Homo sapiens: one gene and its partners. The protein of the gene in region 3 purifies or fractionates together with the protein of the main gene of each other region. This does not show direct contact. Each region holds a gene or a part of one and is shown on either strand. Other genes may lie near its edges.

What was found.
Region 1: the proteins of MED16 (region 3) and CDK19 purify together in Homo sapiens (affinity purification with mass spectrometry; 8 studies listed by BioGRID and IntAct, with this or other methods). This does not show direct contact.
Region 2: the proteins of MED16 (region 3) and MED9 purify together in Homo sapiens (affinity purification with mass spectrometry; 5 studies listed by BioGRID and IntAct, with this or other methods). This does not show direct contact.

The regions. Positions count from the first base shown.
Region 1 is NC_000006.12:110,813,939-110,817,685, forward strand, and holds the start of CDK19 (cyclin-dependent kinase 19), read right to left. Parts: upstream 1,532-3,747; 5' UTR 1,199-1,531; coding exon 1,071-1,198; intron 878-1,070; exon of another isoform or gene 679-877; intron 1-678.
Region 2 is NC_000017.11:17,479,944-17,483,690, reverse strand, and holds part of MED9 (mediator of RNA polymerase II transcription subunit 9), read right to left. Parts: intron 1-3,747.
Region 3 is NC_000019.10:886,462-890,208, forward strand, and holds part of MED16 (mediator of RNA polymerase II transcription subunit 16), read right to left. Parts: coding exon 3,676-3,747; intron 3,347-3,675; coding exon 3,177-3,346; intron 1-3,176. UniProt on the Homo sapiens protein: Component of the Mediator complex, a coactivator involved in the regulated transcription of nearly all RNA polymerase II-dependent genes.

The DNA of each region.
Region 1 (3,747 bases), on a different chromosome or scaffold from region 3:
CCTGGGTCCCTAGCTTTGGGGGAGGGTAATTCCTGCCAGGAAGCTGGTTCCACCAGTCCTGCTGTAGCTGCTGTCTGCCCTCCAGGACCAAGAAAGGACAGGTATTCTCAGTACATTATCCAGCTCTTCTTAAGAGGACAACCAGTAAAGGCTTCCCAAGGTGTTCCTACAGTTCTCCCTCAACTCCTAGGAAAACAAAGGTTCAGGCCCAGCTCTGTCACTTCGTATTCCGTTCTTGATAATATAGGTACTCCATAAGCCCCAGCCCACAGTCATCTGGCAGAGGATGGAGTGGAGGACATAATACCCAAGATACCCAAGGGGCTGCAAGGTAAAGGGTGGGTAGCAGAGAATTCAGCCAACTCTTAAGTTGCCGCTTGCGAAACGCAGCTAGCCCATCAGGTCTCCTTCGAAGGGGGAAGGTACGCAATTCAGAATGTGAGAATGAGAAACCCGGGACGCCGGGCATACAACAGGGATGGGAGGACTGCATAGAGAAGCCAACGGGCCGGCCAGCCCGAAGGGCGGAGATCGCTGCTGGGGGCGGCGGTGCCCAGCGGGTCAGAGCCGTGGGGCTGGCGAGGACCCCAGGCCGCGTTCGCCCGACAGGCTCCCCGGCGAGGTTTCAAACCGCCGCCCCCGCGAGGCGCTCAGCCGATTGGAAGTTCCACAACGACCGTCACTACCCAGGGCCGGAGCGGCAACTCCGCAGCGGAGCTCTGCCTGCCCGCTGCGTTCCCCCAAGAGACTAGACCCCACAAACTCCTCCTCCACCGCGGTCCCAACTCGAGTCCCCCCGCCGTCTCCGAGCACTCGGAGGGCGCCCCTCTGGGACGGGACCGACGCCTCGGACCGGGCTGCGCCGCGGGAGTTCGAGGTACGCGACGGGGCCGCGCGGGGGAGGCGGGCGGAACGGGCGCCCCTCGGAGTCGGTGTCCGGACGCAACCCCGCGACCCCCTCCGCCTCGCCCCTCGGGCACGGCCCGACTGGGATCCGACCCACCCATCCCGCCAGGTCGCGGGCAGGGCGAGGACCCGAGCGAGCCTACTCCTCCCGCCCCTGCTCTTACCCATCTTTCCGCCTCGCCTTGTAGACGTGACCGTAGGTGCCGCGTCCCACTTTGCACCCTTCGTACTCAAACAAATCCTCCACCCGCTCCCGCTCCGCCGCCAGCTTCGCCTTGAAATCATAATCCATTGTCTGCTTCCCCCATAGAGGCACGGGACGCGGGGGCCGCCGCCGCTCAGTCCCTCCTCCTCCTCCCCCCGCGACCGCCGCTCCACTTCTCCAACAGCCGCCTCTCGCGCGCGCGCGCGCGCCGCCCGCCGCCCGCCGCTCCGCGGTCCGCCTTCAGCAAGGGACTCCTCGGCGGCCACAGCAGCCACCTCCTCCACCTCTTCCTCCTCCTCCTCCGCGACGGCGGCGGCGGCTCCCGCAGGCACCCCCAGTCCCGCCTCCCTCCTTCATTTCCTTGTTTTGGAACCTGGTGGGCCGCGCCGTGGCTTCCTCGAGCTCATTAGCGAACTCACTGGCCCGCCCCATGGTCGCGGAGGCTCCTGGGAAATGAAGTCGCGAAGGCCTCAGCGGCCTGGGCGGTTTTGCCGGCGTAAGAAATACAGCTCCCAGGTTACCTCGGGCCACCACAGCCTCGCCCCCACAAAGCATGCGCGCCTGCGTACCAGGGCCGCCCCTCCCCCTCAGGTAGCGCACGGCTCCCGGTTCCTGTGAAGGTAGAAAGCTCGAAGTTCCAGTGTGCTTTCTGCGGTTCTCGGGGAGACACTGGAAAGAAGTGCCTTACTCTAGTGGGAAGGGGATACTTCACTGTAACTAGCCCCACGCAGAGAGTATGGAAAGCATTAAATCAGCACCTTGCTGAAGGGTTGGCTGCAGTGACTCGGGAGGCGAGGGCTGGTGAGGACAGTTGTACCGCAGCTTGTTTCTTTTCTAGGGCAGTGGGTCCGCCTATTGCCCCGCCCCCCGTCCCGCTGCTCATTGGCGGGGGCTGGAGAATGACGTCCTCGTTGGTGCGTGGGTATCCCCAGGCTTTGGCTTCTTTCCCGCTCTTGATTGGTGATTGGATGTGCTCGGTTCTTCCTGATAGGTTGATCTTTTTTCTTTACGATGCAAAAACCGTATTTCAAAAACTGAACCTTCAGCAGTTTCCTAGAGCCTGCCTTGGCCAGAGGAGAACATGCAACTTCTGAGCCCCAGCAGCCAATCATCATTTTCTTGGCGCTGTAGTCAGCTTTCTCTTAGCATATGCGGTTCCCATAACCAGGCTTTGGCCATCTGTCTAAGGACAATTAAAAGTGCCTGGAGGAAGCCGCGTTTACGATCCTTTGGGTTGAATTGTAAAGGATTTTTTATGGTCTATGCATGATGTGAGGTTCTAGAATGTTTAAGAAAGCCCCTTTAGTTAGGGTGAACGTTGATTGATTTCATTGTGTTGGGGCTCAGGACACACTACCCCAAATTATAACTGAAGGAGTCCAGAATATGCCACCCCAAAATACGCCACTCTGGCATATTGATGTCTTTTAGCAAAATAAATTAAGATCCAGCCAACACAGGAAAATGCTTCACTTATCCCACTACTGCCTAAAATAAAGAATAACTCTTCCTTTGTAAAGAGAAATTTACATTTCTAAAGGAAATTTTCGTAATTAAAGGAATCTTACCAGAAAGAGAGCTGCTGCTAGTCAACTTGTATCATCTGAGATACTTTTATCTGCATAAAAGTCAACCTTTATTCACCTTAGACATTTTTTCCTCTTATCCTCTCTTAACTTGTCTCCACCACTCCTGGAAGCCCCAAACCCCACTTTTGTTTTGAAGAGACTGGCCTTGCTGTGTTGCCCAGGCTGGCGTCCAACTCCTGAGCTCAAGGATCCTCCTGCCTCAGACTCCTGAGTAGCTGGGATTACAGGTCCGTGCCACCATGCCGGGCCCCACTTCCTTTTTGAGGTCAGGATGTAATATAAGTGTCAAACATCTGGCCCTTCTTTGAGTCTCATATTTTGTGGGACTCTTGTGCATACATACGTAATTAAAACTTTTTCTCCTGTTAACCTGACTGGTATCAATTTAGTTTATAGACCAGCTGAAGAACCTAAGAGGGTTTCCTCCCCTGTAATGGTGAGCCTAATGTCCCAAATGTTTGGGATACACACTTAAACATGATTGGTGCTAGGATAGGACATAACACATTCATTAGGAGGACAAAGAAGGGAATTGTCAATTCTACCCAAAGTGGTAGATAAGGAAAGAATAGTGAACTGCCTGCTAGGTTTTGAAAGAAACTTGGAAAACTAGTGGGAGGGGGAATGATTTACCTTATTTGCTACATCACCCACTCCTGGAAAACTTCCTTAGACCTTGAGTCTCTTCAGGCTGGGTGCAGTGGCTCACACCTGTAATCCCAGCACTTTGGGAGGCCAAGGCGGGTGGATCACGAGGTCTGGAGTTCAAGACCAGCCTGGCCAAGACAGTGAAACCCTGCCTCTTATTAAAAATGCAAAAATTAGCCAGGTGTGGTAGCATGTGTCTGTAGTCCCATTTACTCGGGAGGCTGAGGCAGGAGAATCCCTTGAACCCGGGAGGCAGAAGTTGCAGTGAGCTGAGACCATGCCACTGCACTCCAGCCTGGGCAACAGAGCAAGACCCCGACTCAAAAAAAAATGGTATCTTTAATCAAGAAAAATCTCAGTTGCTCTTGTTGCCATGCACTATAATAACTGCTGGAGATA
Region 2 (3,747 bases), on a different chromosome or scaffold from region 3:
CTGGGATTACAGGTGTGAGCCACCGTGCCCAGCCTCCCTTTCCTCATTCTTTAAAAATAACATAAATGTGTAGTTTAATTTTTCATTCAACTGCGGGAAAGACACTAGAAGAGATGAAAGTGCTATGGGTTCCAACTCCAAGCAGGGCTGTCCCAGCCAGAGCACTCCCAGAACCAGGTGGGTCCCTGGGGGTACAGGAGAGGCTCTGGTTCACAGGGCTCTGTGCAGCATTTCTGTGGGCACTTCTAGTGGAGGGGCTGGAGGGTCTGCCAGCCTGGAGGACTCCGCCCACCCAACAGCACCTGCAGCAAGAGGACCCTCTGTGGGCTTTGTGTTGGGTTATTCAGGCAGACAATCTGAAAATGGTCTGCAGAGATCCCTGAGTAAAGGCCTAAGTTTGGGCTCAATTTGAGAAGAATGGAGAACAAAGAAAAATTAGCCAAATAACATTCACAAGATAAAATAAGCATAAAGGCAAAGAGACTAATTAAATGCTGATTATAATACTCAAAAGCGAGGCTCAACGACCTGGCCAATGAGTAGTATCAACAGGCTTGGAAGTAAAGAAGCAGATTAAAGACGAAATGTTCCATTAACAAAAGCATCATGATCTAGCATCAGGCAGGCTGCTAGAAAACTCCACGGGAAAGGAAGGGCCAGGGAAATACTGACAAGAAAGAGGAAGGGTGAAAAATTAACCTTAAAAGATAATTAAATGTACCATGAAGATTTAAGAACTAAAATAGTTTGGTGCTGGAGAAGGAGAGAATGTCCATAAGTAGATCAGAAAACATGTGGGAATTCAGTGCATGGTAAAGGTGGCACTGCAAGCAGGGAAAATAACAAATATTCAAAAACAGCAGTGGGAAGATGTGGCTAACCGAGGCCCCCTTATTCTTCCCACCAAAATAAATTCCAGGAGCCTCAAAGAATTACAAGTAAAAAATGGAACCATGAAAGTTCTAGAAAAAAGAGATCAATACCTATAATTTTAGAGTGGGAAAGCCTTTCTAAGTAGGACCAAAACTCAGAAGCCATAAGGGAAAGGCCTAACAAATCTGACTACATGAAATTATATGCATCTGAATGAAAAACAAATAGAAAAACCATGACTATGAACAAAGTCAAAAGAAAAGCAACAACCTGGAGGAAGTATTTACAGTACATTTGACACACATTATTTCCTTTCTGTACATAAAAAAATCTAACAGAGAAATGGACAGTTTATAGGGAAAAATAAAAGTGACATATAAAATCGCCTATGAAGGGATGCTTTACCTAACTTAATGAAAGATCAATATATCATTTCTGACCTATGAGATTTGCCAAAGTTAAAAGTTTAATGGTGATGGCAGGTGATGGGGAAAGACACAAAAACTGTTGGTGGAAGCATAGATCAGGGCATTCTTTGCTCATAGTGACCCAAACAGATTCACATATCCCATTGCTAGAAATTTACCCCCACAGAGACTACCAAGAGTTCACCAAGATAGCATGGGCAAAGATGCTTGCTGCAGTGCTGATTCCAACAGCAAAATGCAGAAACAATGACGGTGTCCTTGAGCAAGAAACTGTTTACATAAACGACAGCACGTTCATAAAGTGGAATATTACACAGCTTTGCAAGGGAGCTGGGAGGAGTGAAGGGAGAGGCCCTGTTTCCATTTCATATCCATGGGTACTTGTAGAATCCGTCTACAACTTTAATTTTTGTTTAATGCTTTCTGGGTGGCAGATTTATAGGCCATTTTAGGTTAACTGAAGCAGTCTAGTCTACAAGGACTGAATTTTGGAAAAGAGTTAGCTAAAAAGACGTAGTGCTCTAAATTTAGCATAACTATCACTATAAAAAATGTTTGTACCCTATGCCCCAGCAATTCTACTGCTGGGATTTATCTGATCATAAACTTACTCCTACACAAAGATGCTAACCCCAGCACTGTGCTGGTAATAGCAAGAATAAGAAAAACAGCTAGAAGACCATCAACAGAAAACCAGTTCCATCAGTTATGCTGCATCCACAAGATGCAATTTTCTGCAGCTGCCTTAATGAGGTAGATCTTTATGTGCAGTATGGAAAGGTGGCCAAAAGAGACTAATCAGTGAAAAAAGTCAAGTACGACGTGATCTCAATTTGTATAAATTTTTGAAATGACATTCATATGTAATTCCCAGAAGGAACTTAGGAAAGTATTAACAGCAGTTACTACAGGTGAGGGGACTTGGGGGAAGGAACACATTTTCCATTTTACGTTTCTCTGTACTTCTAAACTTGCAGTTGTTACTTTTATTAAATAATTTTTCAAAAACTCTGAATTCTTTATGAGAACAAGAAAGGCTAAATTCACTACTTCAGATTTTACCTCCTTACTCACCCCTGTGCAAGAAGTAAACAAAGAATAAAAGGATCATTGGGGAAGTTATAGGAAAGGAAGGGACCCAGGGCCAGAGAGCGCCACCTGGGTGGACCGGACATGGTCCCAGCCCTCATCTCCACCCGCCAGTACTGTGTCTTGACTGGCTTCCAGCCTGACAGTTTCACTAGCTCCCCATCCCTCAGAAGACACCTGCACTCTGTTTCCTGGCTCTTCCCTCCTCCCCAGCCACCTCTTCCTGCCTTGGATGTATGCTCAACACCACCAAGCTAGAAGCTGACTCCCATGAGTAGATGCTATTTCTTGGCTTCGTGTCCTTACATGTTTTTCCTATACCAACATTCCTCCTGCCTCCCTTTCCTAATTGAAGACTCATTGTTGGCATCACTCTTACCAAGCCTTCTGACTCCCCCAGGCTTCACGAGGTCTCCTCTCCCTTCCTCCTCTGCCCTTATTCCTCCCTCATTTGCCTATAAACTCAAAGACACGCCTATACTGAAGGTTTGCAGGTTGGATCCTAGCCTCTTCTCATGTTTACAGCTGCAGAACCACTCCATTCCTTTGTGGCTACTGTTTCCTCCACGTGGCTTTTTCTGCTCTTCTGTCTTGTCTTTCTCTTTTTTCCTCTCTCTCTCTGTCTCCTCTCTTTCTTTCTTTCTTCTTTGAGACAGAGTCTATGTCACCCAGGCTGAAGTGTAGCAGTGCGATCATGGCTCACCGTAGCCTCAGCTCCCTGGGTTCAAGCTATCCTCCCATCTCAGCCTGCCCAGGTGCTGGGCTTGCAGACAGACATGAGGCACCGCGCCTGACCCGTGTCTTTCTTACCAGGGGGTTTCTTCCTATGCTTAGTGACCTTGGCCATCCACTCATATATTTAAGAATAAAACACTAAAAGGCTTAGTGGAAGCTCTGCAAATGAGTGATGCTTGTTCATTTTCTCAGAATTAATTGACTAGGCTTTTTTTTTTTCCAATGTCTTTTCTCTTAATTGGTCACGCACCATAGAGAGGGCACTTCCACTCTCTTTGGCTGCCAATCTAGAAGCCAGGTGGGGGAAGGCTCGGGTGGTGTCTCTCTTCAGACTGTGAACTTTCTCTTAATCCCTCTTTTCAGTATGGCTCCCCCTACCTACCCCTGCAGTGTGCCTGGTGTCCCACAGTCAAGGTACTCTCTGGCTTATTCCTTCCTAAGAATAAATCTCGGGAGAGTAACCTTTTAACCATCTGCCAAGTTGGAAGAAGGGTAGTCACCCGGCCGCTTGGAGGGGATGGGAGGTGGGACAGGACTGTGGGGACCTGCTTCTTAAACAGACTTCCAAGTAATCTTCCTGTTCTTAGACCCACCTTCACCCCTATTTCCAGGGGGTCCTTGC
Region 3 (3,747 bases):
GGAGTCACCTCCCCTTTCTGTAAAGGGACAGACAGCAGCATGCTCGGTTCTGGGAGCCAGGTGGTCCCTGTTGCAACGACTTGGCTCTGGCTCTGCCGTGGCGGCACACAGGCAGCTGGTGCCAATGAGCCACACTCACAAACCCAGGCGGGGGCCGTCAGGCCCTGGGCCGCACTGTGCAGACCTGAGCTATAGCACTCAGGAAGTGCTGTGTAAGCACCAGCGGCTGCTGCGGGCACTATTTGATTTCAAATCAAATTTGTCAAGTCATTATTGACATACGGAAACATCCACCCTTCTTTCAACGTGAGTCTTTTAAAAGATGGGGTCTTGGCTGCGCACGGTGGCTCTCGCCTATAATCCCAGCACTTTGGGGGGCTGAGGCAGGTGGATCCCCTGAGGTCAGCAGTTCAAGACCAGCCTGGCCAACACAGTAAAAGCCTGTTGCTAATAAAAAATACAAAAAAATTAGCCGGGCATGGTAGCGGGTGCCTATAATCCCAGCTACTCAGGAGGCTGAGGCAGGAGAATTGCTGGAATCCAGGAGGTGGTGATTGCAGTGAGCCGAGATCACACCATTACACTCTGGCCTGGGCAACGAGAGCAAAACTTTGTCTCAAAAACAAAAAAAAAAAGAACAAGAAAAATGTCTCTACGTTGTGAAAAAATGCGAGGAAGAGAAGTGTATCATACGTATCGTACGGCTCCATTCTAAGTTACAAGTTAAAAAAAAACACTTCTTATAGCAAGAAGCAGGTCCAGAAGTCCAGGAAGCAAGCCAGGCCTGGTGGTGAGGGGTTGCCATGGCGACGACTCATCTGGTGTCCACACCACACGTCTGTGTGGGTCGCAGGCTGGCATGTCTGAGACTATGTTAAAGGAGCACATGTGCCTTTTATTAATGTAATTAAAAAACAAAAATTTGGCCGGACGCGGTGGCTCACGCCTGTAATCTCAGCACTTTGGGAGGCCGAGGCGGGCAGATCTCAAGGTCAGGAGTTCGACACCATCCTGGCCAAGATAGTGAAACCCCGTCTCTACTAAAAATACAAAAATTAGCCGGGCGCGGTGGTGCGTGCCTGTAATTCCAGCTACTCGGGAGGCTGAGGCAGGAGAATCACTTGAACCTGGGAGGTGGAAGTTTCAGTGAGCCGAGATCGCACCACTGCACTCCAGCCCGGTTGACAGAACAAGACTCTGTCTCAAAAAAAATGTATTTGGTTATTTTAAAAAGCGAGGCTCTGACTCAGGCCACAGCGGGGATGCACCTTGAGGACATCACGCTCAGTAAGAGATGCCAGACACAGAAGGCTACGCAGTGTGTGATCCTGTTTCTATGAATGTCCAGGACAGGCAGATCCAGAGAGACAACTGGGTCTCGGGGGCTGGGGTGGGGGATGGATCAGGGTGATGCAGGATGGGGACTGGGTTTCCTTTTCGGGTGATGAGAAGGGACTGAAGCTGGGCACAGTGACTCACGCCTGTCATCCCAGCACTTTGGGAGGCCAAGACAGGCAGATCACCTGAGGTTAGGAGTTCGAGACCACCCTGACCAACATGGAGAAACCCGGTCCCTACTAAAAATACAAAAAAGCAGCCGGGCGTGGTGGCGGGCGCCTGTAATCCCAGCTATTCAGGAGGCTGAGGCAGTAGAATCGCTTGAGCCCGGGAGGGAGAGGCTGCAGTGAGCCGAGATCGCGCCACTACACTCCAGCCTGGGCAACAGAGCAAGACCCTGTCTCAAAAAACAAACAAACAAACAAAAAAGATAAAGGTCTGGCCGGGCTCGTTGGCTCACACCTCTAATCCCAGCACTTTGGGAGGCTGAGGCAGACGGATCACCTGAGGTGAGAAGTTCGAGACCAGCCTGGCCAACATGGTGAAACCCCGTCTCTACTAAAAAATTACAAAAATTAGCCAGGTGTGGTGGTGGGTGCCTGTAATCCCAGCTACTCAGGAAGCTGAGGCAGGAGAATCGCTTGAACCCAGGAGGCAGAGGTTGCTGTGAGCCAAGATCGCATCACTGCACTCCAGCCTGGGGGATAGAGCGAGACTCTGTCTCCAAAAAAAAAAAAAAAAAAAGATAAAGGTCTGAGGTTAGCTATGGTGGTGGCCGCACAACATGGCGAGTGTATACGAAACCTCTGGACCGTGTGGGCTGCACACTCTCAATGGGTGAGTTCTAAGGTCTGTGAACTCCATCCCGACAAAACTGTTACCAAAAACAGGAAATACAGACAAACGGGGACCGCAGGGTGGGGAGTGCACCCCGGAGGGCCCCCGTGGCACGAAGCCGGTGCTGCGTGTACTGCGGCAATGCGCCGACAATGGCAGTCCCTGGGGAGGGACTCACGAAGGGACGAGAGAAAAGATCTTGTCCACTGCATCCCTCCAGGAAGGCCTCCTAGTTCCTGCGAGAGCCCCAGCACAAGCAGACGCACAGAGGCACGAAGCTGGGGTGGCTGTGAGGCCTTTGCCACGAACATCCCCGAGACCCTGCCGTCAGTGAGGAAACTGACACACAGAGGTGAGGAGTCAGAGCCTGAACCCAGGTGCCCCCCCAACCCTGGCCACGCCTACTCTTAACTGTCCCCCCCAACCCTGGCCACGCCTACTCTTAACTGTCCCCAACCCTGGCCACGCCTACTTCTTAACTGTCCCCAACCCTGGCCACGCCTACTCTTAACTGTCCCCCCCAACCCTGGCCACGCCTATCTTAACTGTCCCCCCCAACCCTGGCCACGCCTACTCTTACCTGTGGGGCCGAATCACAGGGAGCATAGAGAGGGGCTCTGGGATGTTACTAAATCAGAGGGTGGGCTGCATTCAGAAGACAGCAGCCACCAGTTATACATGCAGCTACCTAAGGACAGTAGCCTCCAGTGAAAGAGATAACTCACTAAGAACGGCCACCCTCAGTTAAATGAGGGGCCACTGAACACGCAGGTGCCAATGACAGCCAGACTGCAGGTGGGGGCCAAGTGAACAGCCACCCTCAGTTAAATGAGAGGCCACTGAACACACAGGTGCTAATGACAGCCGGACTGCAGGTGGGAGCCAAGTGCAAGGTCCAAAAAACCAGGGGATGCTGGTGATGGAGAGGAGAGGGGCTGGCGGGTGGCTGGGTAGGGTGACATCTCATCTGCCTCATCCGCTCACTCGGGCAGGACACTCACCTTCTCCACGTGCAGGGCCAGTTTCACACCATTGTGCAGCCAGGACAGGGCCACAATGGGGTCCCCCTCCACTAGGCTGCCCACTGAGCTCTCCCAGCTATTAGCCAGGTGGTCCGCCATGCTCCAGCACTTGATCTGCCCGTCGGCATCTGCTGACAGGAGCCGGGAGCCTGAGGGCAAGAAGCCATCATTGCGAACCTTCCAGGGATGGGCAGAGCACTGCGTTGCAGGACGGCACAGCGCCTGGGGGAAGCCAGCCCAGTGGAGAGGTCTCGGCCCAGGTAGGGCACAGCAGGTGGCACAAGGCGCACTCCAGAGATGCCCTGAGACACCCTGAACAAGAATGATTCGGGCCACTATGGAAAGAGCAGCAGGTGCAAAGCTGCAGACCAGGGGCTCTAGACCCAGCGCCGGACTCCAGACTGACCGGAGAAACACAGGGCCCCCCTGCTCCGGGATCCGGGTCGCCACCCCTGGCCACGTGGGACCAGCGCCTCACCTGACTGGTCCCACTCCAGGCAGGTGATGGCCTCGTGGTGCTCTGAGGGGATCGAGTGCAGGTCCCAGGGGT